Homo sapiens: one gene and its partners. The protein of the gene in region 3 interacts with the protein of the main gene of each other region in a biochemical or structural test. Each region holds a gene or a part of one and is shown on either strand. Other genes may lie near its edges.

What was found.
Region 1: the proteins of ESR1 (region 3) and NRIP1 form a complex in vitro, tested with the Homo sapiens proteins (4 studies listed by BioGRID, with this or other methods).
Region 2: the proteins of ESR1 (region 3) and EP300 form a complex in vitro, tested with the Homo sapiens proteins (10 studies listed by BioGRID, with this or other methods).
Region 4: the proteins of ESR1 (region 3) and SP1 form a complex in vitro, tested with the Homo sapiens proteins (6 studies listed by BioGRID and IntAct).

The regions. Positions count from the first base shown.
Region 1 is NC_000021.9:15,061,997-15,068,868, forward strand, and holds the start of NRIP1 (nuclear receptor-interacting protein 1), read right to left. Parts: upstream 3,005-6,872; 5' UTR 2,749-3,004; intron 2,595-2,748; exon of another isoform or gene 1,841-2,594; intron 1-1,840. UniProt on the Homo sapiens protein: Modulates transcriptional activation by steroid receptors such as NR3C1, NR3C2 and ESR1. Also modulates transcriptional repression by nuclear hormone receptors.
Region 2 is NC_000022.11:41,172,577-41,179,607, forward strand, and holds part of EP300 (histone acetyltransferase p300), read left to right. Parts: coding exon 1-87; intron 88-1,046; coding exon 1,047-1,208; intron 1,209-3,670; coding exon 3,671-3,952; intron 3,953-4,196; coding exon 4,197-6,380; 3' UTR 6,381-7,031. UniProt on the Homo sapiens protein: Functions as a histone acetyltransferase and regulates transcription via chromatin remodeling. Acetylates all four core histones in nucleosomes. Histone acetylation gives an epigenetic tag for transcriptional activation.
Region 3 is NC_000006.12:151,803,680-151,810,681, reverse strand, and holds the start of ESR1 (estrogen receptor), read right to left. Parts: upstream 3,001-7,002; 5' UTR 2,770-3,000; coding exon 2,318-2,769; intron 1,576-2,317; exon of another isoform or gene 1,411-1,575; intron 1-1,410.
Region 4 is NC_000012.12:53,411,158-53,416,959, forward strand, and holds the end of SP1 (transcription factor Sp1), read left to right. Parts: coding exon 1-83; 3' UTR 84-5,289; downstream 5,290-5,802. UniProt on the Homo sapiens protein: Transcription factor that can activate or repress transcription in response to physiological and pathological stimuli.

The DNA of each region.
Region 1 (6,872 bases), on a different chromosome or scaffold from region 3:
ATTCATTTTTAGTTGTCCTCAATGTTCTAAAATAGTGATGTTTGACAGAATTAATACAGTGCTCTAGTTCTTTCTGTTCAACTGGTATTTAATTAAAGATCTTGGAGGCCATCTTTCTCTCAGGCTACACCACTTAAAGGAGGAACATTACTTCCTCCATGGACAATGTGATAAGCCACATGGCAACAAAGCTGCCTCCCTAAGGTCTCTCATTTAATAGACTGCTTTACCACATATAAACTACCAGCAAAACAGATTATCACTTTAATTCACATTGATTTTACTCTTCATATCTCTGAATCACAACTCTGTCATGGGCTGCGTTCTCTCTTAACTTCTGAATTTCCAGAATTTCTGTAGTTGTAATGCTCTCCTGTATTTTTGCTTTTGTTTCATCTGGACTTCAAAAAGTTCTAATGGCATCTGATTGGGAAGATTTCTTGAATCTCTGATAACAACGCAGAAGTCTTTAAGCAATCAGAACTGCCTTGGCGCACAAACTGAAAACTCCGTTTTAAAATCTTCTGAATTAACATCTTTTGGAGAATAGCCCACTCAACTTGATATGTCATAATTTTCAATTCTAAAGGTGGCACGGATAATTTAAAGTGGCACTTGCTATTTATTACTTAAATAATTGTTCTCTTGGACGGGCTTTTGAAAGCTAGTACTTCTTAATCATTTTCGACTATATCAGAACTGTAACAGACATGTCAATTTAAGCAAACTTCATGAGCAATAAACTAACAAACAGACTCTAGGTGGTGGTATAGGTTATTTTTTATCATGATGTTTTGCACTTATAACTGCAAGAGTCAGAAAAGCCTTTAGTCTCTTCACACACTTCTTTAGTGCAAAGTTAACAATATTTTAGGGTGTTAAAATTAGCAAAATCCAAGTTCTGCAGAGTTTAGAAATGCATGTAAAAGAGGCATTAAACCTGGTTTTCAACTAACTTCCCACAGGCATTAAACCTGGTTTTTCAACTAACTCATTTGAATAAAATCAACAACGAACAGTCCTTTTTTTTTTCTGTTATGTTCTGATGTATATTTTACTCACACTCCTAGGGCACTTTTAAAGGTAAGTTTGGAAAGAGGTCTTTCTCCACCAGAGTATGAAACAGACTAGAACAACCAATCCTACAACCTGCAGGGCAGTAGCCGCTCCACTAATTGATTCTCCTTCTTTGTCTCTAGGAACTATGCCCAGGCAGAAAAAAAGTTACTGTAGGTGATGAAGCCAGTGCTCCCTGAACCAAATAAACCCTATCGACGTTACCGAACTGCCGGGCAAAACCAGAGCAACTCACTTACTTGGAAGGTGAAAAACACTTCAACATACTCCAGGCGGCAACCGACACTTAGGGGCCAGGCAGATGAAACACCATTTGTTTAAAAAGTCTATTATTTCACTGTCTCTTCAACAAAGGTGGAAAACTGATGATTAAACACTGAATAATGCCACCCACTTACTAAACCTATGATTCACTAATAAGCAGGTTCAATGCAATTCATAACTTTAAAGAATGAATTACCGAAGCCCCTTGCTTCACAAATTCCCCCAAGAAACAGAAAGAGCATTCATCACATATAACCCGACAACCATTTTTACTATGGACACCTACAGATGGCTTCTCTTCCTCTAAGGACACAATTTCCTTCACAATCCCACATGTAATCATTTACAATACCAGAAACAAACTCCAACTCAGTTCCACCAACTGGGTTTTTAAAAATCCTTGTGCCTAAGAACGTCTTTTTTCCCCAAAGTAAAATGTGCCATTAAAAAATATTTTTAAAACGCAAAAGTGCTTATCATTCCGTACTTCTTTTACTACCTTCAGCAGCCAATTATTGACGTGATAAAAGGTAGAAACTCCTGGAATGCTTCAGAGATCAACATGTGTCACAGACTCCCAGCCTGTCCGCCTCTAAGACACAGTTGGTTCCTTTGTTCCTTCTGACTGAACACCAACTCCTGATCAAAATTGGGAAACTACTTTGGAAGGGATGGGAGGGTCTGCAGAATACATCCACGGAAACCTTCATAAAACAATATTCAATCGTAATAAGGTGGACACAGAAGAAGGGAGAAAAGGCAGCCTCCCGGACTTCCACCGGGCTCACCCTAAATGGGGGCCGGCCCCTGGCTCCTGGTAAAATGATGGCTGAGGCCTCGGGTCCGTGAGCCTCGCCATCGGGAGGGGACCGCGAGTGCGGGCAGAGCGGCCCGGGGTCGGGTGGGGGCCGGGCGAGCTGTCCCTTTTCCTATTCACTTTCCCAGCCGGGTATCCAGCGAGCAAGGAGCAGGGAGGCACCCAGGCGAAAGGCGCCGCCCAGGATCCGGCTGGACAGCAGGACGGAGAGCGGCGAGGCGAGCGGTGCCCGGGGTTCGGGACCGAGAGGGCAAGCGAGCGGGGGCAACCCCGACCCGGCCCCCCGAGTCCGGCCCCGCTCAGGGGCCACGCGACGGCCGCCCCCTTGCCCAGAACTGGCACGGACGGGCGGGCCGACCCGGGGCCACTCCACAACTTGCCGGCCCGCCGCCCCGGCCCCCCGCGAGAACCCGGAGACTCGAACCAGGCAGCAGAGGCAGGATTTCCCCGGAAACGCGCCCTCCCCGCCGCCCCGACGCCCCCGCGGCCCTGCCAGCCAAGCGAGAGCCGACGCGGGCCGCGCTCCCGGGCCGTTTCCGGCGGCGCCGGCGGCCGCTACTCCTGGCGCCCTGGCCGCGGCCGTCACTCACCCCAGGCCGCCGCGGCTCCCAGCCTCCGGCTCCGTCAGGCTCGGTCCGCGAAGGCGCCTGCCGCCCCGTCCTGGCCCGGCGCCCCGGCGAGCTCTTCCCTCCGACCAGCGGCGCTCACGGCGCAGCGGCGGACGCGAGGCCACGGGCGGACGGGCGCGCGCGGGTGGCGGGCGGGCGTGGGGCCGGGTCGTCCCTGCGCCTCGCCGCCGCCTCCTCCGCCGCCGCCTCCCGAGTTCGGGGCTCTGCTGCAATGTCTGCGAGGCTGACTTTGAGCGCCTCGCTCACCGCCCGCCCGCAGCCGCGCTCCTCCCTCCGCCGCCGAGTCCGCCGCGGCCCAGTCCCTCCCCTCGCCGCCCCACGCCATTCAGCTCTTCAGCCAAGTTTCTTAACCCTTTTCTCCCCCTCCCTCCCATTGTCACCCGGTCAGGAGGAAGCCGCGCGGATCCGGGCGGCTCACAGGAGCTGCGGAACCCCCTCTGTTTCGTGGATTTCCTTCTCGCCTGCTCTCCGGGTGTCCCAGACGGGGCTGCAAGACCCGGAGGCAGCGAGAGGACCGCGTCCCCGAGAGAGGGGCTGCACGGCGCGCCCGGGCCGTCCCCCGGGCTCCCAGCTCTGTCCAGCCGCCCGCGACCGCTGCAGGCGCCTGGACAGCTCCTCCTGGGGACCGGGGAAAGCGCTCTTGGGACCCAGGCCGAATGCTCCCGTTTGGGCACAGCCTGGGGGCCGGGGCGCCCCAGACGCTCCAGGGTCCCCGCCTGCCTTAAGCGTCTACCTCCTCCCCTTCACCCCACAACACGCGCTCTCTGGGCCCCCTTTCACCCACCCACCCCCAATTTCTATCTCCTTGTAATCTGTGTGTCCTGCTTTAATGTTGGGGGGCACGGGCGCGAACTCTGGGTCACTTTGACCCCACGCCCAGCACGTAGTAGGCGCCCAGCACTCGTGTGGAGCGACTCTGGGAGGAAAACTAGGAAGGAGACCTGAGGAGCGCCCCGCTCAGCTCCCTGGACAGACGTAGGACCCAGGAGCAGGGTTAATCCTCGGCTGCTTTGTCACTGCGAAGTCTCCAGCGGAGTCTGTCAGCCAATCTGCATCATCCCCGGGAAGGATCTGACCCAACAAGACAAGGGAAAAGGAGCAGGGCTGCTACTTCTTCAGCAGCTCTCCTCGGTTCGGTCTCCGAATAAGAAATAACAATTACATCACGAGGCCGGGGCGGCAGCGCGGTGGAGCCTCTCGGTTTCCTGCAGCCTAATCTCACTGAACCCGCCTCTAAATTGGGGGGGCCACAGATTGGTGAAACGAGAAAGTGGAAGGAGGAGAGAGTCATACGAAACCATAATTTCCCCTTATCCTTGTATTTGCTGTTTGAAAAATCGTATCCTCAACGCTCCCCAGACATCTCACTAGAACTATTAACACCCCCTCAACACCTCCCCAGATGTCAGGTTTCTTTTTGACTTGAGCATCTAGCATTTAGTAATTCGCCATGAAAAAAATTACCAGGGGAAGCGAGTGTTGTTGCTGAAATTGTTTTTGCTTGACACAAAAAAGCTAAAGTACAGCTTAGTCTCACCCGAAATTCTGAAACGGCATGCCCGTGTTAAAACACTTATTACATAAGACAAATGAGCCGATGAGGCACTCCATTCTTATATGTAGGTTTTCATATCCTGAAGAATTTGATAGCATTTGGAAATGAAGTTGCTAATGCGCTTAAAAAACAAAAACTATCCAAGTCATGAAACTGTATTCTGTGCCTGTTATGTAATGGCTGTATTGTGTATTGCAAATTTCACTTAACCTTTAAACAATATGAATGAGAGTTTTAGAATACTGTCACAGTCTTGAAAGTGAAAGCAATTTTTCAAATTAATGCTTAATAAATTCAGCACCCAGCACAGTGCCGGGCACATAGTGCCAATGTTTTCCTTAGTGGCAATGGCACATTTTAAAACAATTATTTTTCATCACCCTAGTGATTGAACTATGCAATCTGTTGCCATTTTATATAGTTAAACCTCATATAATATAATACCATATTATTTGCATATACCACAATTCAAAATCTGCTCTAGGCAAAATAAAGTCTGCTGTTTTTTAGTGCATCATTTATTCAGAATTGATACAAAGCAAACCGTTTCAATTCAATGATGACCAGCATAATTGGAGCTTGGCCCTTAGTGGGGGGTCAAACTTTTTTTATGAAAATTATTTTTAACCATTATACAGATTTTTCTACAATGTATTGCAAATGTTTCTCTTAAGCAGTTTGTTGAACGTCATTTAGCATTTTCTTGATAATTCAATGTTAATTTTATTAAAAGTAATTATTGTAGTAGGTTGTAGCGGATTCAGTAAATATATCCAGTTCCTATTCTATATTCTTTCTAGGTGTTAGGAATGCTCCCAGGAGGTACAAAAGCTATCAGTCGCTGCACCGAAGGACTCTAGGATGCTATGACTTAGTGATTATCTCTGCCTTTTGTAATTTCTCTCTCTCCCCCTTCACTAACTGACAATCTATTGTCCTTACTGTTACTAGCATAGCTGCCACTAACATTCTCCTCATCTTCTGATGGGTAACTTCCAGTCTAGTGCGGACTGGGAATCCAGATAGCCTCACTTGTCACAATTCTGTCTAAAGTAAACTTAATAGGTTCTGGGTAAGGGACTAATGGGCTCACCAAGGAGTAGGGCGCACACACACCTTAGTGCATAGACTTTGGGAAAGATATTTGGACTACTCAAGTCTATCTTTTAAATACATTCCTCTTACTTCTTAACCAGGTTTTGGACCATGGAGATTGCCCAGCAAGCCGAGAATATTCCAGCCCTCCAACATTGTTGTTAAAAAGTCCACTGCTGTATGTTAGGTGACTTCCCAAAGCTGCTCACTACTTCTTCTTATTCTGTTTTCTCAACCCCACAAAAATCCAATCACTGAAATCCTGAACTCTTTTGATAGTGGCATGAGTGTTAAGTAAATTGCACACCTCTTGTGGAATTCATTTTCACTTAATCATGCTAATTATGTGGAGACTTGTTTGTTGTTGTTCTTTGTTTTTTTAAGTAAATCAATACCTAAATTTCCTGGCTAACAGAGTCATTGCAAGGATACTAGGGCATTATATGTAATATAAGAATGCCTATTTGGTAATTTGTACTTTGAAGTCAAGTCTCATTTGAATCATTTGTGATGTGAAAACAATGCTGTTGGGTTTATATACTTAAACACCTAATTATTGTTTTACGTCCAGGGTTCCTGTGGGATCACATGCCTTTAGTTCAGTCTCAGTATACCTCTCCGCCACAAAGATGTAGTCTGGGTGTGTTCTCTAGCCTTTGGTTCTGTAGCCTTTGGTGTGTTCTCTAAATCTCTCCTCTATAGCATTTTCAAAAACCGTTTTGTTAGTGGGTATTTGCTTGTCCGTATCCCACTGTAGAATGCAAGCAGTACAGGCACAGGGTCCATATCCCTCTCATTCACATTTGGGGACTTCCAGCTACCCATCCCTGTGCCCAGCAGACAATAGACATTCAGTAGATATTGGCCAACATACTGTCATACCCCAGAGGACAGAATGTATCTTTCTCTTGGGGTCCTGGCTGTGATGTAAGGGAGTTCAGAGAACATTTTGCAGAGAAAATAATGCTTCCGCTGGCCATTAAAAGGTTAAAAGAATTAGCCATGTAGGCAAAGTGGGAAAAGAGGTTCTCAGGAGAGGACATAGACTGTTCAACAGTAGAGAGGTATGAGAAGACAAAAATATGCACTGAGAAGTATTGAGCCCATATTTACACTATGGAGTGAACTATGACACCTGAGTAGGGAGAAATATGTGTAATATAATAGATCACAGACAAATGGAACCCCACTGCAGTTACCTTATTAGCCACAGTCCCTTAGCCTCTGGAGCAGCACTGACCAATAAAAACATAAAGTGAACCACAAATGTGAGCCACATAAGGAATGTTAAATTTTCTGGTAGTTATATTCAAAAGTACAGAGGAACAGGTAAAATTAATTATAATAATGCACTTTAACCCAATACATCAAAAATTACCATTTCATGTCTATACAACATACAGAATTATTAATTAGATATTTTACAATCTTTTAC
Region 2 (7,031 bases), on a different chromosome or scaffold from region 3:
AATGTTCTGGAAGAAAGCATTAAGGAACTGGAACAGGAGGAAGAAGAGAGAAAACGAGAGGAAAACACCAGCAATGAAAGCACAGATGTAAGGGCATTGAGTTTCCTTTGAAACTTCTATCATGATTCTAATATTTAATCCAGAAGTGCACTTAAACTTTCAATTGGGTTTTAAAGCTTTCAGGTGTAAAAGAGCTCTTTAAGTTGGACAAGAAATATTGGCTTAGAGAGGTTATTAGGGTTCTGTTTCAGTGGTATTAAACTTTTAAAGCATCAGAGCCCCTTTTAAAATGGCATCTCAGACTTTGAGTAATGTGAAATGATAAAAGAAACTGAAGGAAATCCTGAAAAACTGATAGAAGATTACTTATCTGAAGGACTAGGTTATGAATATTATAGGCCTTGTGGGTCACATATCTCTGGCATATTTTCTGTCTTTTAAAAACACACTCTTTTTAAATGTAAAAAACCATTCTTAGCTATACAAAATAGGCCTGAGCCAGAATTTAAGTTACTAAGCCTGGCTTAGTAACCTCACCAGTTATTTCCCCATAGCATATCTCGAATTACCTCCATTGAATTTAACTTAACAAAAGGCACCCTTAAATAGTCTGTTAACAAACTCTTACAGCCTTGTCATTTAGTATTTGTAGGCTCATAACATTTTAGAATATGAGTGGAAGGAAATAAAACCAAGGTCTTCTGGCTCCCCACTTTGATACACTCTTCACTACCCCAAAGTGCCACCCCTTCCTTGTTCCCTAGCCCCAATCTGGGATACATTCAATCAATCTACAGGGTCTGCACATTCTGTGGCCTCTTCTAGGCAAAAAGCTAAAGGGCTGCCATTGCCTTAAAGATCACTGGGAGAAAATTAGGTCAAATAACAACTTTAAGGAGAAAGAATAAGTGAAGAGAACAGCTAGTAAAATAAGTTACAGGCATAAGATTATGATATCTAGTTTCAAAGAAGGGAGATATTCTGTGCTATTCCCAAATTACTTAACAAAAACCTTATTTTCTTGTCTCCTTTGTGCTACTCTGCAGGTGACCAAGGGAGACAGCAAAAATGCTAAAAAGAAGAATAATAAGAAAACCAGCAAAAATAAGAGCAGCCTGAGTAGGGGCAACAAGAAGAAACCCGGGATGCCCAATGTATCTAACGACCTCTCACAGAAACTATATGCCACCATGGAGAAGCATAAAGAGGTAAGATGCAGCCACCCAGAGTTGGGGAAAAACGGCAAGATTTCTGGCCAGGCATGGTGGCTCACACCTGTAATCCCAGCACTTTGGGAGGCCAAGGCGGGTGGATCACCTGAGGTCAGGAGTTCAAGACCAGCCTGACCAACACGGTGAAACCTTGCTCTACTAAAAATACAAAATTAGCTGGGCATGGTGGCACATGCCTGTAATCCCAGCTACTCAGGAGGCTGAGGCAGGAGAATTGCTTGAACCTGAGAAGCGGAGATTGCAGTGAGCCGAGGTCACTCCATTGCACTCCAGCCTGGGCAACAAGAGCGAAACTCCACCTCAGAAAAAGAAATAAGAAATGAATAAAAACACTGACTGTTCGCTGGGCGTGGTGGCTCATGCCTGTAATCCCAGCACTTTGGAGGTTGAGGCAGGCGGATCACTTGAGGTCAGGAGTTGGAGACCAGCCTGGCCAACATGGCGAACCGAAACCCCGTCTCTACTAAAAATACAAAAATTAGCCTGGCGTGGTGGCACACACCTGTAATCCTTGGGATGCTGGGGTGGGAGGATCACTTGAACCTGGGAGGCAGAGGTTGCAGTGCACTTACAGCCTGGGTGACAGAACGAGACTCTGTTTCAAAAAATAAAAAGATTTAACCTTTCTGAAAGTGAATTAGTAAATAGAATTGGAGAAAAGTTAAACTTCCACATATGGACTTACAACCCCCTTCTCAAAACTTTTTGAGTTATTTCATCATTTACATTGTTTAGTTGTTCTTGCAGTCATTTGGGAAAATAACTGGGTAAGGTTTTTTTTTTCTCTCTTTAATATCATATAATTGATAACGAAAGCCAGGAGAATTGAAGAGTAATTCCTCTCAGGGTTTGTCCAATGGTAGTAATCTCGATTGTTCAGTCAGACTCCTCATTTTACTATCTCGGTTCTCAGACATATAATCAAGTTCTTATAGGAAGTGGTAATTAAGTTGAGAGGGAAATGAAGGCTTGATTTCAGGTTGTAATTCCGTACCTAAAAATTGGTTAAACAGTCTCTTTGGGAGAGAAATAGTTAACAAAATCTTTTTTAGAGAGGAATTTGTTATAATGATGTTATCATGGTGAACACCTATATACATAGGTGTTCAAAGTATCTTTTCCCCCACTGCTCCCCCCATCACCACCCCTTTTTTGTTAGCCTAGAATAATGGGCTACGATGTAATAATGGTAATAACCATTATCTCAGCCATGCTAGTGAAATGGAAGGATTCCTGAGTTCTAATACGTTAGGTAATGATTATTAACAATTAATAGTTACTAGCTATTTCAAGCAGTAAGTAATGCCACAGAATCCTAGGCAGTTGGGAAAAGCCCTTAGAATATATTGTAATAGGTTTGACTTAAATTGTGGACACATTCCATGGCTGTTTAAATTTAGGTTGTAAATCCAAGTATTGGCCTGGTTGTAGGGTGACAGAAGCAGCGAACATTGCTGGCCAGAGACTGTGAGTGTGGCTGCCAGTGTGCACAGATGTTGAATAATCTGTTATCAGTACAGCAGTTTCTCACAAGTTCCTAATTTCTTAAGGGGATGTTTTACATTTTATTACTTTAATAGGTGTTTATAGTTATATACTAATTAATGTCAAATACATATGTAATACCAGCTTTTTATACCTTTTACACTAATGGTTATGAGAATTGATGGTTGTTACAAGTTTTTTCAAACTTCAATGAACAAGAATTTTATTGCTTTGTCAACAAAGACTAAGATTTTTTATCCATTCCATTCCCTTCCAAACCTGTAGGAAAAGTTACACAGGAAAGTTGCATAGGGGACCTTCATGAGTCCAGGCCAGTTGTTTTTCATACTGTCTCCATATTTGGATTTGTCTGGTTTGTTGTAATTAGATTGAGGTTAAACCATGGATTGCATCTTAAAGTAGACTGCCTTGAGGCAAAATGTCCACTGTGCATGGTGCTATACCTCACCCAGACCATTGTTACTCTGAAGGAGTTACTGAATGAAGGAGAAAAAAATCACAGGATGTGCATTTCAGTTCTATTTATAGTCAGTCTCAAGAGACCAAAGAGGTAAAGCAGGAAAAGGAACAGGAGGCGTATGGTGGTGAAACTAACTCAGCATTCGCCAGTCTCATTGGTGCTCAGCCTGCTGTACCTGCTCACACCTGTAATCCCAGCACTCTGGGAGGCTGAGGCAGGCAGATCACTTGAGCTTAGGAGTTTGAGACCAGCCTGGGCAACATGGCGAAGCCTCGTCTCTACAAAAAATGCAGAAATTAGCCAGGTGTGGTGGTGTGGGCCTGTGGTCTCAGCTATTCAGGAGGCCATGGTGGGATAATTGCTTGAGCCCAGGAGGCAGAGGTTGTAGTGAGCCAAGATCACGCCACTGCATTCCAGCCTGGATGACAGAGCGAGGCCCTGTCTCAAAAAAAAGAGACTGTCTGTTTTTCAGGTCTTCTTTGTGATCCGCCTCATTGCTGGCCCTGCTGCCAACTCCCTGCCTCCCATTGTTGATCCTGATCCTCTCATCCCCTGCGATCTGATGGATGGTCGGGATGCGTTTCTCACGCTGGCAAGGGACAAGCACCTGGAGTTCTCTTCACTCCGAAGAGCCCAGTGGTCCACCATGTGCATGCTGGTGGAGCTGCACACGCAGAGCCAGGACCGCTTTGTCTACACCTGCAATGAATGCAAGCACCATGTGGAGACACGCTGGCACTGTACTGTCTGTGAGGTAGGCACCGGGTTGTGGGAAGGAGGAGGTGAGCTCCGCAGGGTTGTTCTGAGGGGCCATGCAGCCACGTATTTTATAGAGGCCTGTGGGATGCTAGGGGCTTGGCCTCGTGTTTGAGGGGCAGAGCTGAAGAGGCTAGTTTTTGTTCTACGAAAGGGGCTTTTCTAGCCCAAACAATATCTAAAATACTTTTGAATGACTTAAATCTTGGAGAGTTTACGTGCACCTCCTGTTTTTTCCCTAGGATTATGACTTGTGTATCACCTGCTATAACACTAAAAACCATGACCACAAAATGGAGAAACTAGGCCTTGGCTTAGATGATGAGAGCAACAACCAGCAGGCTGCAGCCACCCAGAGCCCAGGCGATTCTCGCCGCCTGAGTATCCAGCGCTGCATCCAGTCTCTGGTCCATGCTTGCCAGTGTCGGAATGCCAATTGCTCACTGCCATCCTGCCAGAAGATGAAGCGGGTTGTGCAGCATACCAAGGGTTGCAAACGGAAAACCAATGGCGGGTGCCCCATCTGCAAGCAGCTCATTGCCCTCTGCTGCTACCATGCCAAGCACTGCCAGGAGAACAAATGCCCGGTGCCGTTCTGCCTAAACATCAAGCAGAAGCTCCGGCAGCAACAGCTGCAGCACCGACTACAGCAGGCCCAAATGCTTCGCAGGAGGATGGCCAGCATGCAGCGGACTGGTGTGGTTGGGCAGCAACAGGGCCTCCCTTCCCCCACTCCTGCCACTCCAACGACACCAACTGGCCAACAGCCAACCACCCCGCAGACGCCCCAGCCCACTTCTCAGCCTCAGCCTACCCCTCCCAATAGCATGCCACCCTACTTGCCCAGGACTCAAGCTGCTGGCCCTGTGTCCCAGGGTAAGGCAGCAGGCCAGGTGACCCCTCCAACCCCTCCTCAGACTGCTCAGCCACCCCTTCCAGGGCCCCCACCTGCAGCAGTGGAAATGGCAATGCAGATTCAGAGAGCAGCGGAGACGCAGCGCCAGATGGCCCACGTGCAAATTTTTCAAAGGCCAATCCAACACCAGATGCCCCCGATGACTCCCATGGCCCCCATGGGTATGAACCCACCTCCCATGACCAGAGGTCCCAGTGGGCATTTGGAGCCAGGGATGGGACCGACAGGGATGCAGCAACAGCCACCCTGGAGCCAAGGAGGATTGCCTCAGCCCCAGCAACTACAGTCTGGGATGCCAAGGCCAGCCATGATGTCAGTGGCCCAGCATGGTCAACCTTTGAACATGGCTCCACAACCAGGATTGGGCCAGGTAGGTATCAGCCCACTCAAACCAGGCACTGTGTCTCAACAAGCCTTACAAAACCTTTTGCGGACTCTCAGGTCTCCCAGCTCTCCCCTGCAGCAGCAACAGGTGCTTAGTATCCTTCACGCCAACCCCCAGCTGTTGGCTGCATTCATCAAGCAGCGGGCTGCCAAGTATGCCAACTCTAATCCACAACCCATCCCTGGGCAGCCTGGCATGCCCCAGGGGCAGCCAGGGCTACAGCCACCTACCATGCCAGGTCAGCAGGGGGTCCACTCCAATCCAGCCATGCAGAACATGAATCCAATGCAGGCGGGCGTTCAGAGGGCTGGCCTGCCCCAGCAGCAACCACAGCAGCAACTCCAGCCACCCATGGGAGGGATGAGCCCCCAGGCTCAGCAGATGAACATGAACCACAACACCATGCCTTCACAATTCCGAGACATCTTGAGACGACAGCAAATGATGCAACAGCAGCAGCAACAGGGAGCAGGGCCAGGAATAGGCCCTGGAATGGCCAACCATAACCAGTTCCAGCAACCCCAAGGAGTTGGCTACCCACCACAGCAGCAGCAGCGGATGCAGCATCACATGCAACAGATGCAACAAGGAAATATGGGACAGATAGGCCAGCTTCCCCAGGCCTTGGGAGCAGAGGCAGGTGCCAGTCTACAGGCCTATCAGCAGCGACTCCTTCAGCAACAGATGGGGTCCCCTGTTCAGCCCAACCCCATGAGCCCCCAGCAGCATATGCTCCCAAATCAGGCCCAGTCCCCACACCTACAAGGCCAGCAGATCCCTAATTCTCTCTCCAATCAAGTGCGCTCTCCCCAGCCTGTCCCTTCTCCACGGCCACAGTCCCAGCCCCCCCACTCCAGTCCTTCCCCAAGGATGCAGCCTCAGCCTTCTCCACACCACGTTTCCCCACAGACAAGTTCCCCACATCCTGGACTGGTAGCTGCCCAGGCCAACCCCATGGAACAAGGGCATTTTGCCAGCCCGGACCAGAATTCAATGCTTTCTCAGCTTGCTAGCAATCCAGGCATGGCAAACCTCCATGGTGCAAGCGCCACGGACCTGGGACTCAGCACCGATAACTCAGACTTGAATTCAAACCTCTCACAGAGTACACTAGACATACACTAGAGACACCTTGTAGTATTTTGGGAGCAAAAAAATTATTTTCTCTTAACAAGACTTTTTGTACTGAAAACAATTTTTTTGAATCTTTCGTAGCCTAAAAGACAATTTTCCTTGGAACACATAAGAACTGTGCAGTAGCCGTTTGTGGTTTAAAGCAAACATGCAAGATGAACCTGAGGGATGATAGAATACAAAGAATATATTTTTGTTATGGCTGGTTACCACCAGCCTTTCTTCCCCTTTGTGTGTGTGGTTCAAGTGTGCACTGGGAGGAGGCTGAGGCCTGTGAAGCCAAACAATATGCTCCTGCCTTGCACCTCCAATAGGTTTTATTATTTTTTTTAAATTAATGAACATATGTAATATTAATAGTTATTATTTACTGGTGCAGATGGTTGACATTTTTCCCTATTTTCCTCACTTTATGGAAGAGTTAAAACATTTCTAAACCAGAGGACAAAAGGGGTTAATGTTACTTTAAAATTACATTCTATATATATATAAATATATATAAATATATATTAAAATACCAGTTTTTTTTCTCTGGGTGCAAAGATGTTCATTCTTTTAAAAAATGTTTAAAAAAAAAAAAAAACTGCCTTTCTTCCCCTCAAGTCAACTTTTGTGCTCCAGAAAATTTTCTATTCTGTAAGT
Region 3 (7,002 bases):
CTATTATATTCCTTTCCATTTTAGTCCTTTTAAAAAATATTCTAGACTCACTAAACTGAGTTCATGACCCTCTGGGTCATGACAAGCAGTTTGAAAACACTGCTTTCAGCCCCAAAACTTTTGAGAACTACTTAAGAAACTTAAAGTTTCCTAAAAGAGCCCAATCAATCCTTTCCTTTATACCCAGAGTCATTTAAGCAGAAAAACTGAGAGGGGAAAAATACTAAATAATATCTGTCCATATGAAGAACTTGCATAGATGCTTCTTTTCCTTGCTGGATAATAACAGGCAGAATTCTAACAAAAGAGGAAAGATAATCCGGGAAATAAAACACAGGAAAAATCATTCTAAAACTGAATTTCCACACAGAGTCCCATTTGTGCAAGTTTTTTTTTTAATTTTTAAGTTCCTTGTCTCTTTTTTTATTATTCTAAGAGTGTTTGAATATCATGTAATGCAGAAAGTGTAAGATAGGGCATATTACACTGATACCACTTATCACTGGGATGATGAACAATTTTGAATAAGATGCGATCCCCTCTGTATTTGACCAGGTTCACTTTGTAATTATTAGCAAGGCAGTAAATAATCTACCAAGGAGCAGTCTCATTAGTGCCCATTGAAATTCAGCAGCATTAATTTGCAATAAAAGAACTGAAAATTAAATAGGGAAGAAAATGGTTTCTGGAGTCCATCATAAGGTTATGGAATTCACATCATACCAGTGCCTTCCTTCACATCAAGCAGTTTTAAATGTTGTGTGGAATTAGACTTAATCGCTGTACTTTGTTCTTCCATTTAAAAAAAAAAAGGTGGGCAGAAGAAATCCTTTTTCTCTGTTTTAACCCTAAATTAAAACAAGTAAAATTAATTTGAAATATGCCAACCTTTAAAAGTTTTGTTCATTGTTTGTCTTTTGAGTAAAGACAGCTTGGATCTGCGTGGCTGTGGGATGCTCTAAATTTCTCCAAGGCGGCTGAAGATGCACACTGAATACCCCCAGAATCTGCCCTTCAGTATCCTCTGGGGCCAAACTGCACTTTAGTCCCCTTCCTTCTGCTATAAATATCCCTGGAAACAGAATACTGAACAAAAACTGGTCCACGGCTTACAAGGCAGAAAGATATAGGGACACCAGTCCGGATACCAGTGTACAGTTGGGAAATGCCTAATTCAGGACCCAGCCATGTGGCGCCCTGAAGCTTCCAAACCCAGTCCGGGGTACACCTGTCCTGTGGCCACCTAGGAAGGTGTTCACCAGAAGCGCCCACCTAATCCCTCTGCAGGCCCATCAGGAAAACAAAAAACAAAAAACAAAAGGAGAAACTGGGCAAGAGAAAATGGGAGGGAGAGGAGAGGGAGAAAGAACAATTCTTGTAGGGAAAAAAATTAAAATGAGGACACACAACCTTCGCCATTGAAGTCACAAAGTGGTCTCCTGTGTCCTGGACCGGCCGCGCTCCTTCCACAGTGGCTGCGAGGCGCAGACCCTGGCTGACCCGCACGCCACTCCGGGGCATTCTCCCCGGGTGGGACAGGCTTGTCACTGGGCTGGCAGGAGATTATTTTTAAGCACTTGTGCTTCCATATGGCTTGTTTTAAACTCGCGGGACACCTACAAATTTCCGGCTGTCAGAAGTCACATGCCAGCAATCCGCTCCAGCGCGGACTCAGCCAGCTAACTCCGAAATCAGACCCATTCAACTCCCAATCGCTCTCTAAAGCCCCAGGACGTGGGGTGGGGAGGAGGGGAAAGCGGGTGACAGGAATCGCTTCCCAGAAAGTCATCATCATAGCTGACATATTTCCAATCAAATAGTCTAGATGAAAGGAAATTTGGGGAGCACATTAAACAAAAACATTAAAAGGATAAATAAAACTCTGCTGAGCTCTGCTAACTCCAAACACCCCCAACTTTAAATGCCAAGAGCGAGACCTTCCCAAGTGACTCAAAGCGCCCCGTGTTTATTTGCCTGGAGGTGTTTTCCCCCACAAATAACTGCTGCTTTGTCTGGTTTTCCAACGTGTGTTTTGTTAGGAAGCCCGGGCTTTCGGGTCTGCCTCTCGCACGGACGGTAAGTGGGTGGAGAGTACGTTTTTTTCAGCTGCCCGGCGAGAGAACTTGACTCTGAACGCAGCGCGGGCTGCACGCAGAACCCCCGGGCTGGGCCGCGCGCCCCGGGCTCCCTGCGCGCACCCTCGGGTCGCGCGTCCCGCGGCTCCCGCAGCTCCCTAGGCTCTCCCTTCTCCCTCCCTCCCTCCCTCCCTCCTGCCGGGCGCGGCGGCCACCCCGACGGGCGGCGCGGGCGCGGGTACCTGTAGAATGCCGGCGGGCCGGCCTCGCGCACCGTGTAGCCGCTGGGCTCGTTCTCCAGGTAGTAGGGCACCTGCTGGCCGTGGGGCTGCAGGAAAGGCGACAGCTGCGGCGGCGGGTGCAGTAGCATCAGCGGGCTCGGAGACACGCTGTTGAGTGGGGGGAAACCCCCCAGGCCGTTGGAGCCGAACGCCGCAGCCTCAGACCCGGGGCCGTAGGGGAGGCCGGTCTGACCGTAGACCTGCGCGTTGGCGGCGGCCGCGGCGTTGAACTCGTAGGCGGCGCCCTCGGGGTAGTTGTACACGGCGGGCTTGCTGCTGTCCAGGTACACCTCGCCCAGGGGCCGCTCCAGGGGGATCTTGAGCTGCGGACGGTTCAGGGGCTCCAGCTCGTTCCCTTGGATCTGATGCAGTAGGGCCATCCCAGATGCTTTGGTGTGGAGGGTCATGGTCATGGTCCGTGGCCGCGGGCAGGGTGCAGACCGTGTCCCCGCAGGGCAGAAGGCTCAGAAACCGGCGGGCCACCTGGAAAAAGAGCACAGCCCGAGGTTAGAGGCGACGCAGCGCATGTCCCGCCGACACGCGAGCTCTGGCCCCGGCCCTGCCCCGGGAGCCTGCGGGTCCGGTGAAGCCGGGCGACCCGACGGGAGCAAGTGCAGTCCCAGGACGAACGCCCTCCGCCAGCTCCTGGGCTCCCGGGCCTCCAACTTTAAGTACTGGTCTCCCGAGCTCATATGCATTACAAAGGTGCTGGAGGACGGCCAGGGACTGTTGCCTTGCCCTGACATTGGCTTAAACATCACTCCAGGCACAACTCGATTTGGAGCGATCCCAAAGAGCAGCTTCCCTGAACTTTACTTTACTTGTCGTCGCTGCTGGATAGAGGCTGAGTTTCACGGCCAGGGGGCGGGGGCGCACGAGGATCTGCTAAAGGTGGCCCAGGGAAGACTGGGCTTAAAATAAACGCGAAAGACGGATCCAGGGGCCGGCTTTCTCTAATGTGCTGCCTTATGTGCCCCGTGCCAGACTCCGATATATCTCTGTTTGTCTCTCTTTCTGTTTGATTCCCCCTCCTCGTTGGCTAGAAATACGTAGTGTGTACATAGGATGACCCTGGGGAGGACTACACTGTAACCGAGATAGGGCAGATAGAATGGGGTGTGCGGTTGCATACGCAGCCAGCCACAGACAGCTATATTTAGCAGCTGGGGGAACTGACAGGGGGCATCTGAGGGGAAGGGGGCGGAGATTCAGGGTATACATATAGGAAGAGCTGCATTTTGCCATCAGGAGAATGCAACCTGCCAGGACCTCAGTTTCTTCCTCTGCAAAATGCTCCCAAAGTAGATAGACCCTTCCACAACCTTCTGAGATTCTCTCAGCCTGACTTGTGTGTTTATGTTGGACCACAGTACTGTACTTGGTCCCATTAGGAATTCTCATGTGAAGGATGATTCAGAAAAACCTTTGGTTAGGGCGCACATGGGTGTTCATGCCTTCCACAGGTTGGTTATGCAACCAAAACTTCAGAAAACTGAATATAAAATGTGACCTTTTCATACCAAACATAACCTCAGGTCACGAACCAAAGCTTTGGCAATTATGTTACATTGTCGGTCTGGTCCAGCTAACAGATTTTTAAAATGCATTTCTGCATGTCTATCCTTTAGTCCTACAACTCGATCTTCTCGGTTCACTTGGGCTAGGATATGCAGAATCAAATATCCAGATGAAAAACAAATAGAAAAAAGTTTTTAACTGAATTAAAAGTTAAACATGCACACGCACATACACACACACATATATGTGTATATATATATATATATATATATATATACATATTAAGGAGACAAAAAATAGGTGAAGTATATCATGCGTCTATAATCTTGGATAGTTTATACTTTTGAATAAACTTCCTTTGCTGCAGCCTAATAGACTCTGATACAACTATCAATACTTTGTTTTAATTGCTATCCCAAACACCCAACAGAGTATCTGACGAAGTGTTCATGGTCTATCTAAATGCCAAGCTTACTGTTACTAAGAGTTACATTTTTGACTATTTTATATCAAGTATACATTTTATCTAATTCTTACAAAAATAGACCATTGTTGGACAATATGCAAATGTAGCTGAAGCCAAAATCGAGTTTAGCATTAATGACTATAGATTGTCAGCAAATAAAGGGTTAAAAACACATTAGGTGCATCGCAGATATTTCCCTTTATGGCCAGCAATCATTACTTTCCAAAGCAATTTTTTACAGATGATTTAATTTCCATAAATCACACTTTCAATTTTCAAATGCCTTTTTAAAACACATGCAAAAAGCACTTCATAGGGCTCTTAAAAAATGTGAACCTGCCAAATTATATGCAAATGGCACAAAGAATCCTACAAGTCCTGAAAGAAAAAGGAGACACACACATACCCCCATGGAGAACAGCAATCCTCATCTCCCTGCTAGGATACAGACACTAGCCAGAAAGGTAAGTTGCTTTCTCAAAATGCTAAAGCTACAGAGAGAGAAATCAAAACAAGCCTACCCTGCTGGATCAAGAACGTCTTTCCAGAAATGTTCCATGGGCTTGTAGAAGTCAAGGGCCGAGAGAGTGAGAAGGAAGGAAGGAATGTGCTCGCATGTGCGAGTGGCTCAGTGTGTGAACTAGGCAGAGAGAGTGTGTGGATGTGTTTGTGCGTGGAATGGCAGGGATTCGGGAAGCAGCCAGTAGGCAGGGCACTTGGCAGCCCCTCCCGGCAGACACGCAGCTGGGCTACTGCACAGCGCTGGATGAATGGCAGTGGGGAGTGAGGGGAGACTTGCTGTCTGCTCACAGGGAGCAGTGTGGCACAGCCAGAGAAAGCTGTACTGGGGAGGAGAAACCCCAGCCCCTTTGCCCCTACCCTTGGAGGCTGGAAAGTACCCTATGCTTTCTGCTGCCACCCCAAGCAAGAGGAAAAACAGGCTTGCTGTGAATCATAGTCTTACGGCTAAAATAGAATGCCAGTCAAAAGTGTATGGATATCAAGTTTACAAAATAGGACATGGGTGGTTTTTCCGAAAGAATATAATTTAACAATAAAAGCCTTCTGGGATACATGTGGATCAAATGCCTTACTGGCCCTAGCCCCCAGTCTCTGAACAGAGGCATTGCCATGCCTCCGATTGCACCAGGAAACCAGACTTTGGAATAAATGTTTTGGCATTCTAGGGATGTGTTTCCAGCTGAAATGTAATACTCCTCCACTTCGTTAACCAAACCCACAAACCTTTCCATGAATAGCTCAGTTGACTGCTTTCTGTAAACATGTGAAAAATACGTATTATTAAAAGCCTAGGATATGAACATAAGATAAAGGTAGATACCTTTGTTTTAAACTGATTTTAGGCTTTCGAGTTGCACTGACCGTGATTGGGAACGAGGTCTCTCATTTCCCAGTGGCGTTCACATGGATCCACCTCTTGACCACTTTCTCAACTATTCTCTCGGCCATAGTACTAACACGCAATACTGAGGTGCTCCTAGAGTGCCCACGCTCAGGGTCCCAGGACACATGACACCCAATGGAGGCTTTGTTGCCAGACATTAGTCACCACCTTGGATATTAAATGACTCTAATCACAATGCCAGGAGTGGCCGGTCTCTGGCCCTGGGACACTATGCAGTTACTGAGAGATTTATGAGTGGCTCTTGAGACCAGTACAAAAAAGAAATAGAAAGCCATAAAAATGTTAATGATGCCATCATGCAAATATATGTTTTTGTGCTTTGAAAGACCCCCAGTATTGCAGTGTTTGAGCACAGGAGAGCTCTCTCCATAGTCAGTATTGAAAATAAATACTGGATATAAATAAATATTGAAAAGAAAGACTGTTACCCTTTGTTGGTGACAGTGGTGCCTCCTGTAGGTCAACAATGGCCACCCATGCTCTAGACCAGTCCCAGAAAAAAGCAAGAGTATTCAGGGAGGGAGGAGAGAGGAACAGGGGAAAGGAGAAGGAAAGGAAAGGGGATCTGCAATTGTTCACTATTGACATAGGAAGAATAAGAAGGTTAGCTGTCTCCTCACAGGCTTTGATTGTTCAGAGACTTACAATCAAAGTTAGCCCAAGAAGTTCAGTAAAGGCAGTTTTCTTAACCACTTTCTCTCCAGCATTCTCTTCCAAACTCATCTTGGTGAGCCTTGTCCCTGGGCTTGGTGAGCATGGGTGGGAAAGTATACTGTGCTACGCCGACTTTCCTCTTCTGCCTTTGGCAAAAACTTCACTCGGGCTCCCAGCTCTCTTGGCTTCCCTCCCTACCCTCTCCTGCTGGACACACACGTTCCAGCCGTGACTTACTGGCTCTCTCAGGTGAAGAAGGGTAAAGATTGATCTGGCTCCTCCGTTGAATGTGTCTCCAGCCCCACTTTTCCAGCGGTCTGCTGGGCATTGCAGGCTTGTTCAAATATGAGTCACCATTCTCAAACATGGTGTTCCTCTCAACTTCCCCGTGTCTGTGCCCAGCATCACTGTCTCTCCAGCCACCCAGATTAAAATCTCACTGTCTTCTTCGAGGGCTGATTTTCCCTTGCCTTCCACACCTAATCAAGAGGCAATTCCTAAGCCTTCTAGCTTTACAATCTCTCTTTTTCCATTGCATTTCGGCCACTCCCTTTGAGACCCATTACCTTACCTGTCCTAACG
Region 4 (5,802 bases), on a different chromosome or scaffold from region 3:
TTGCCCGTCTTGCCAACAGTGGCATCAACGTCATGCAGGTGGCAGATCTGCAGTCCATTAATATCAGTGGCAATGGCTTCTGAGATCAGGCACCCGGGGCCAGAGACATATGGGCCATACCCCTTAACCCCGGGATGCAAGGTAGCATGGGTCCAAGAGACATGGAAGAGAGAGCCATGAAGCATTAAAATGCATGGTGTTGAGAAGAATCAGGAGAGGGATACAAGAGAGGAGATGGGGTCCCGGCACCCATCTGTATCATCAGTGCCTCTTTGAAGGTGGGAAACATTAGTGAAAATTCTGTTGGTGCCACGCTTTGATGAGCATTTGTTTGACCCCAGTTTCTTCTTACACTTCTTACCCCAGCCTACCCTTCCTGCATTTCTCTTCTCAGCTCTTCCATGATGGATTCCCCCCCCTTTCCTAAAGCCATCATGCCTTGATAAATATATATGATCATTGAAATACTTTTTAACAAAAAACAGATTCTATATTATTATATATATATATATATATATAAAGATATATAGAGATGCATTCACAGGGGTTGGCTGGGAGGAGGAAGACCATTCTGTGACCAAAATACCTTGGTCATTTTTTTTATATTGCCTTATTTCCCTATGGCTGAGCCTTGTTGTGACACATCAAGCTTTTCTGTAGATGTTGTCTTGGCTTCCCACCAGCTTAAGCGTTCATATGCTCTGCTTTTAGTTCATATATACATACATAATGTTTTTCCTTTCTTAATTTTGTCTTTTTGTTTGGGATCAGCTTCTTGCACTCCTTCCCTAACTCAACTGTTGCCGTCTCATCTTCTCTCATCTGATCACTTCATGTTTTGTTTTTGTTACTGCCTGGATGAGGCACTTCTGTCAATTTTTTCAGGACCTTAGTTCCAGCAGCAGAATGGAAAAATCCTTGAAGCCCAGGCTGATGCTTGAAGTAACTGTGGAGGGAGTGTTCAAAATACTACTGACGCAGGCACCTTCTTGGCGCTGGAGAGTCAAAGGCATCTCCCTTCATTAGCTGCTCTGAGCATCAAGAATTAGAAGTCTTTCAGTGGAATTGTACAAGAGTCCCTTTGAAGATAATAATCTTGGCTCAGTTTGTATAAACTGTCAAATTTTCAAATAATAGGTAGGGGGCTTTCACTAGGAAAATCATGTGCTCAGAAGAGGAAATGACTCGTAGTCAGGTTCAGGAGTTAGTGGAGTATTTGGACTTTGGTACTGCTGTCTTCCAAGGTAGCTCTAAGTTTTGATGTGTGGGCTTCTGAGTTTATATTCTGAAAGGAAATACACTTCTTTTGAACATCCCCACTAGGTTCTTTTCCATTGTCAATAAGGAGCATCAGCCAGTGAATCTGTTTCAGGTTTCCATTCTGCAGAACTCCTCCAAAGCATGTGCTAGTGGCAAGACAGTGGTTCTTATGATGTTTTCCCTTAACTTTTCCTTGTATGTTCTTGGGTGGTTCCTAAGGGAAAGGGAAGCACATGATCATGGGAATGATAGCCCAGAACAAAAAGAAATCTTGTCTTACCACAGTGTTTTATAGGAGAGATTGGGAGAAATCATCCTGTTTTCTCTGTGACCTGATTTCAGAAGAGACTGATCCAAAAATTATAACGGCAGGGAACCTAGTGCATTTGGCACTGAGATTTAAATGCAACCAGAATTGTCCTCAAGGCCCAGCCATAAAAGCATTGTCTCTCTCGACCTTCTGGTATCTTGTTAGAGAGCTTTTCACTGTGAGGAAGTGTGGAAAAATAGCTCTGTGTGTGTGTGTGTGTGTGTGTGTGTGTGTGTGTGTAATCTGTTAGGTTGGGGATAGGTTTTCTGCTAGCCAATATTAAAAGAGACCTGCAATAAAAAAATTACCCTGATCTGATAGAAAGCAAGTGTTTTTGTATGTGTGGGTGAATGTGTGTTCATGCCCGTATATGTCTACACACAGATGACAAATTATATTTGAAATCGTTGGAAAATAAATTCAGATCAAAATGCCTTTCAGGCCCATTACCTAGAAATCTATCTTAAAACCTGGGTATGTTCCTAAGGTCATTTCTTTGCTTATGCTAAATTAATTACAATTATGAATGGAGGATATTCTACTGTACTTTTTTAAAAAGAAACTATTTTTGTGTTTGAAAGTGAAACCAACATCCAGATCTATAGCAGAGTCCTTATTCTTCTCATAAATCTTTTTACTTTGGCTACAAATAGATGATGGTATGATTCTATTATATATTTTATATAAAATCCATCCAAATTAAGTTTTGGGTAAGTGTGTTGTTTAATCTGAACTATAGTAACTTAATACTCTAAACAATAGTTCACTCCATTTGGTCCTTTCTCCACAGATGTAATTATGTTTTCAACTCAGGAACTATGGCAAGGAACTTTCCCCAGATCAAATTCTATTAACGCTGAGATACAAGTCATCCATGCACAGCCACTATCATACCCTTTATTCTCACTGAAAGGCAGAACTCAGAACCTGTTATTTTATGTCTGTAATCATGTACTTTGGCATCTTTTGGAGGAAAGGGGCAGGATAACTCACTGGAATGTACAGTATTTTGCTAGTGCATTTCAAGGAATGGAATCTTCTCCAGTATGAAATTACCAGATATAAAATAATGTAATGATGCTGAGGATATAAGCTTTTAGAAGGTAATTTGATGGTATTTCTTTCTCGAATGAAAAGCTGCTGGTTTACCCTCAACCCTATTCATTAGCATTACCATGAGTGAATTTATATCTAATTATTTCCACTTGCCCTGTTCTCTTCACACCAAGGAAGCTCCAGATCCAGTATCTTGTTTGGCCTCAAAACAGAAGCAGCTTCTTTTGTCTCCCAGCAGTAGTGAGCCACTCAGTCTCTTCCACAGGAAGTTTGGAGCCTACATTCCTTGAGTCAGGAGCTTATTACAGAAAAACCCCGTTTCCCTGAACTTTTGGCTAACAGAAATTAATTTAACTGACATGCATATTGATTCTGAAATTTTTTTCCTAAGTTTTTTTCATTTTTTTGAATGAGTTTTTTAAATTTTTTAGATGACCAAAACTTGCAGGGCAGGGGATGCCCAGAAGAGTGGTGAGATAGTAAAACACTTATTCCCTCATCCTTTCAGGTTTTCAGGTTGCCCATTTATATTCATTTACATGTCATTTGACTGTCTCACTTTTTACCCAGAACAGTAACAACCCACACCGTCTTCCTTCAGGGATTTCCAACTGGCACTCTGTGGGTGCTACACAGAATGCAATTTAATGGATATTTCTCAGCCTGGTTCAGAATAAATTGATCCTTTGATCCCAGAAAGTATATACTGAAGTGTGGGATAAAGATTATGATTAGGGGAGGGTTGGAGACAAAAGCTGTAAATTACTATGGCTGATTTATTTCTACTATATACATATATATTTTTTGCTTTTGTATATCCTATATAGGAAACTAAGCATTGTATTTTTTTTAACAAATCTAAAAAAGCACTATGAACTACAGGTGTTTGACTTTCAAAATATATTTTGTATTGTTAATATCTTCACATTGTGTGAATACTGGAAGCTGCAGATCTTTGCTAGGACGCAATAAATTTATATACTTTTTGAGGGGTTCTTCTGGGGTGCTAATCAGGCCCCTGTTATGCTTAGGGGGAGCCCTGGTGCTACTTGCTTGAAGTTTTCAGTGTAAGTACCCTGATGCCTTTTGGACCTTGGGATCAGATCAAGAGTTTTGGAGATCAGGTACCAAGGAAATAAGGACAGTCTAGCTGCCTCAAGTGAGGGGCCCTTTGCATAGCTCTCCTTCCCCCTCACTGAAGCTGGGTAGCCTATTGGGGTTGAGAGGGAAAATGTGAAATCTCAGAATTTATCTCCCTTAGAAGAGAGCCAGTAACTTATGTACAAGGATGAAAGAAAGGTCGCAGCAGTAGCTTTGGGGAAAGGGAGGAAGATATGGCACTTCTCCAACCCCGGAAAACATTGCTTTTGAAAACTGCTGATAAAATATGAGCCGGTTATTACTTCTGTTTGGGAGACTGTGCTCTCTGTGGTGCCTCTCTTGGCTCTACTCCACAGATACCAGACCTCTTCTAAGAGGATGAGCAGACCAGCTTTGAGGTTGACCTGTTTCTCTTTGTCTGCCTTCCCAAAACACCAGCCCCCAGGAAGACATTAAGCAGCCTTAAGCTTAAATTCCTACTCCCTCTTCCAAATTTGGCTCACTTGCCTTAGATCCAAGGCAGGGAAAGGAAAAGAAGGGGGGTCTCTGGCTTTATTACTCCCCTAAGTCTTTACTCTGACTTCCCCAAACCCAGAAAGATTTTCTCCACAGTGTTCATTTGAAAGAGGAGTATTTTGTCCCATTTTCCCCTTCCTCATTATCAAACAGCCCCAGTCTTCCTTGTCTCTGCTAAGAAAGTAGAGGCATGATGATCTGCCTCTCAACTGCCCTAAGTCCTAGCTAAGTATCAGGGGAAAAAAAAAAAAAAAAAGCCTAACAAATGGGATTAGACTAGGGCTGCAAGTAGTGAGGATTTTGTTGATACCTCTGCTGGGATGTGTGCTTTCCCATATCTTGCCTTCAGGAATTACACTGTGCCTTTTCCCCAGGGATATGGGCTCTGTCTACCCAGTGCTCCAGTTTCCCGGTAACTGCTCTTGAACATTGTGGACAAGGGCAGGTCTTCATATTTTTGATCATCCCTTTCTCCCAGTGAAATCCCATAGCCCTTACCTAGAGTCTAGGGCACAAAGACTTCGGGGAAGATACACTGAGATTGACCTGAGGAGACATCTACACACACCAGTGGCAGCTGCCCCAGGGCCTGCTTCCCCTTCCTAAGTCTGTCATCCTCTGGAAGGGATGGGTGGTGCTCCAATCTCTGGTGCCTAAAAACCCAAGTTTATTTCTCTCTTAACACTGGCAATAACCAGTCCACACCACTGTTGCCTTTTAAAACCTCTTAATAATCTCATGCTGTGTTTGTTTTGATTCCAATCCAATTATCACCAGGGCTGTGTGGGTAAATGCTTTTAAATGCTCTCTCATCTTGTTCTTCCCCCTCACCCCCCACTCTTAGGTATGTATGATGCTAATCTTGTCCCTAAGTAAGTTTCTTCCTGCTCCTTTTGTATCTTCCTTTCTTGTCTTTCCTCCTACCTTTTGTCTCTTGGTGTTTTGGGACTTTTTTTTTTTTTTTTTTGGCCTTTTGTACAAAGATTAGTTTCAATGTAGTCTGTAGCCTCCTTTGTAAACCAATTAAAAAGTTTTTTAATAAAAAACCATGTCTCTGGTGTATTGAAGAGGGTTGGGAATGGTGAGAGTGTACGTTTGTAACTTCATACTCTGAACCTAACAAAGGTTTCCAGCTACACTGTGTTGTGCTCCATACATGTTAATTAGTGCAATTGCCCTATATTTAACTCCCGGGTAAATGGTTTCATGACCAGATCAATGTGCCACAACTACACGGAAATGTGGAGGACCAAGACAAACAGGCAACACTAACTTTATTTTTTTTCTCATATGCTTTTTTATTTTGGAATAATTTTAGATTTACAGAAAAGTTGTAAAGCTAGAACAGAGTTTCCATATAATCCTTACCCGTTTCCCTCATTGTTAACATATTACCATGGTACATTGTCAAAATTAAGAAACTGACATCGTGGCCAGGTGTGGTGGCTCACGCTTGTAATCCCAGCACTTTGGGAGGCTGAGGTGGGTGGATCACGAGGTCAGGAGATCGAGACCATCCTGGCTAACACGGTGAAACTGTCTACTAAAAATACAAAAAA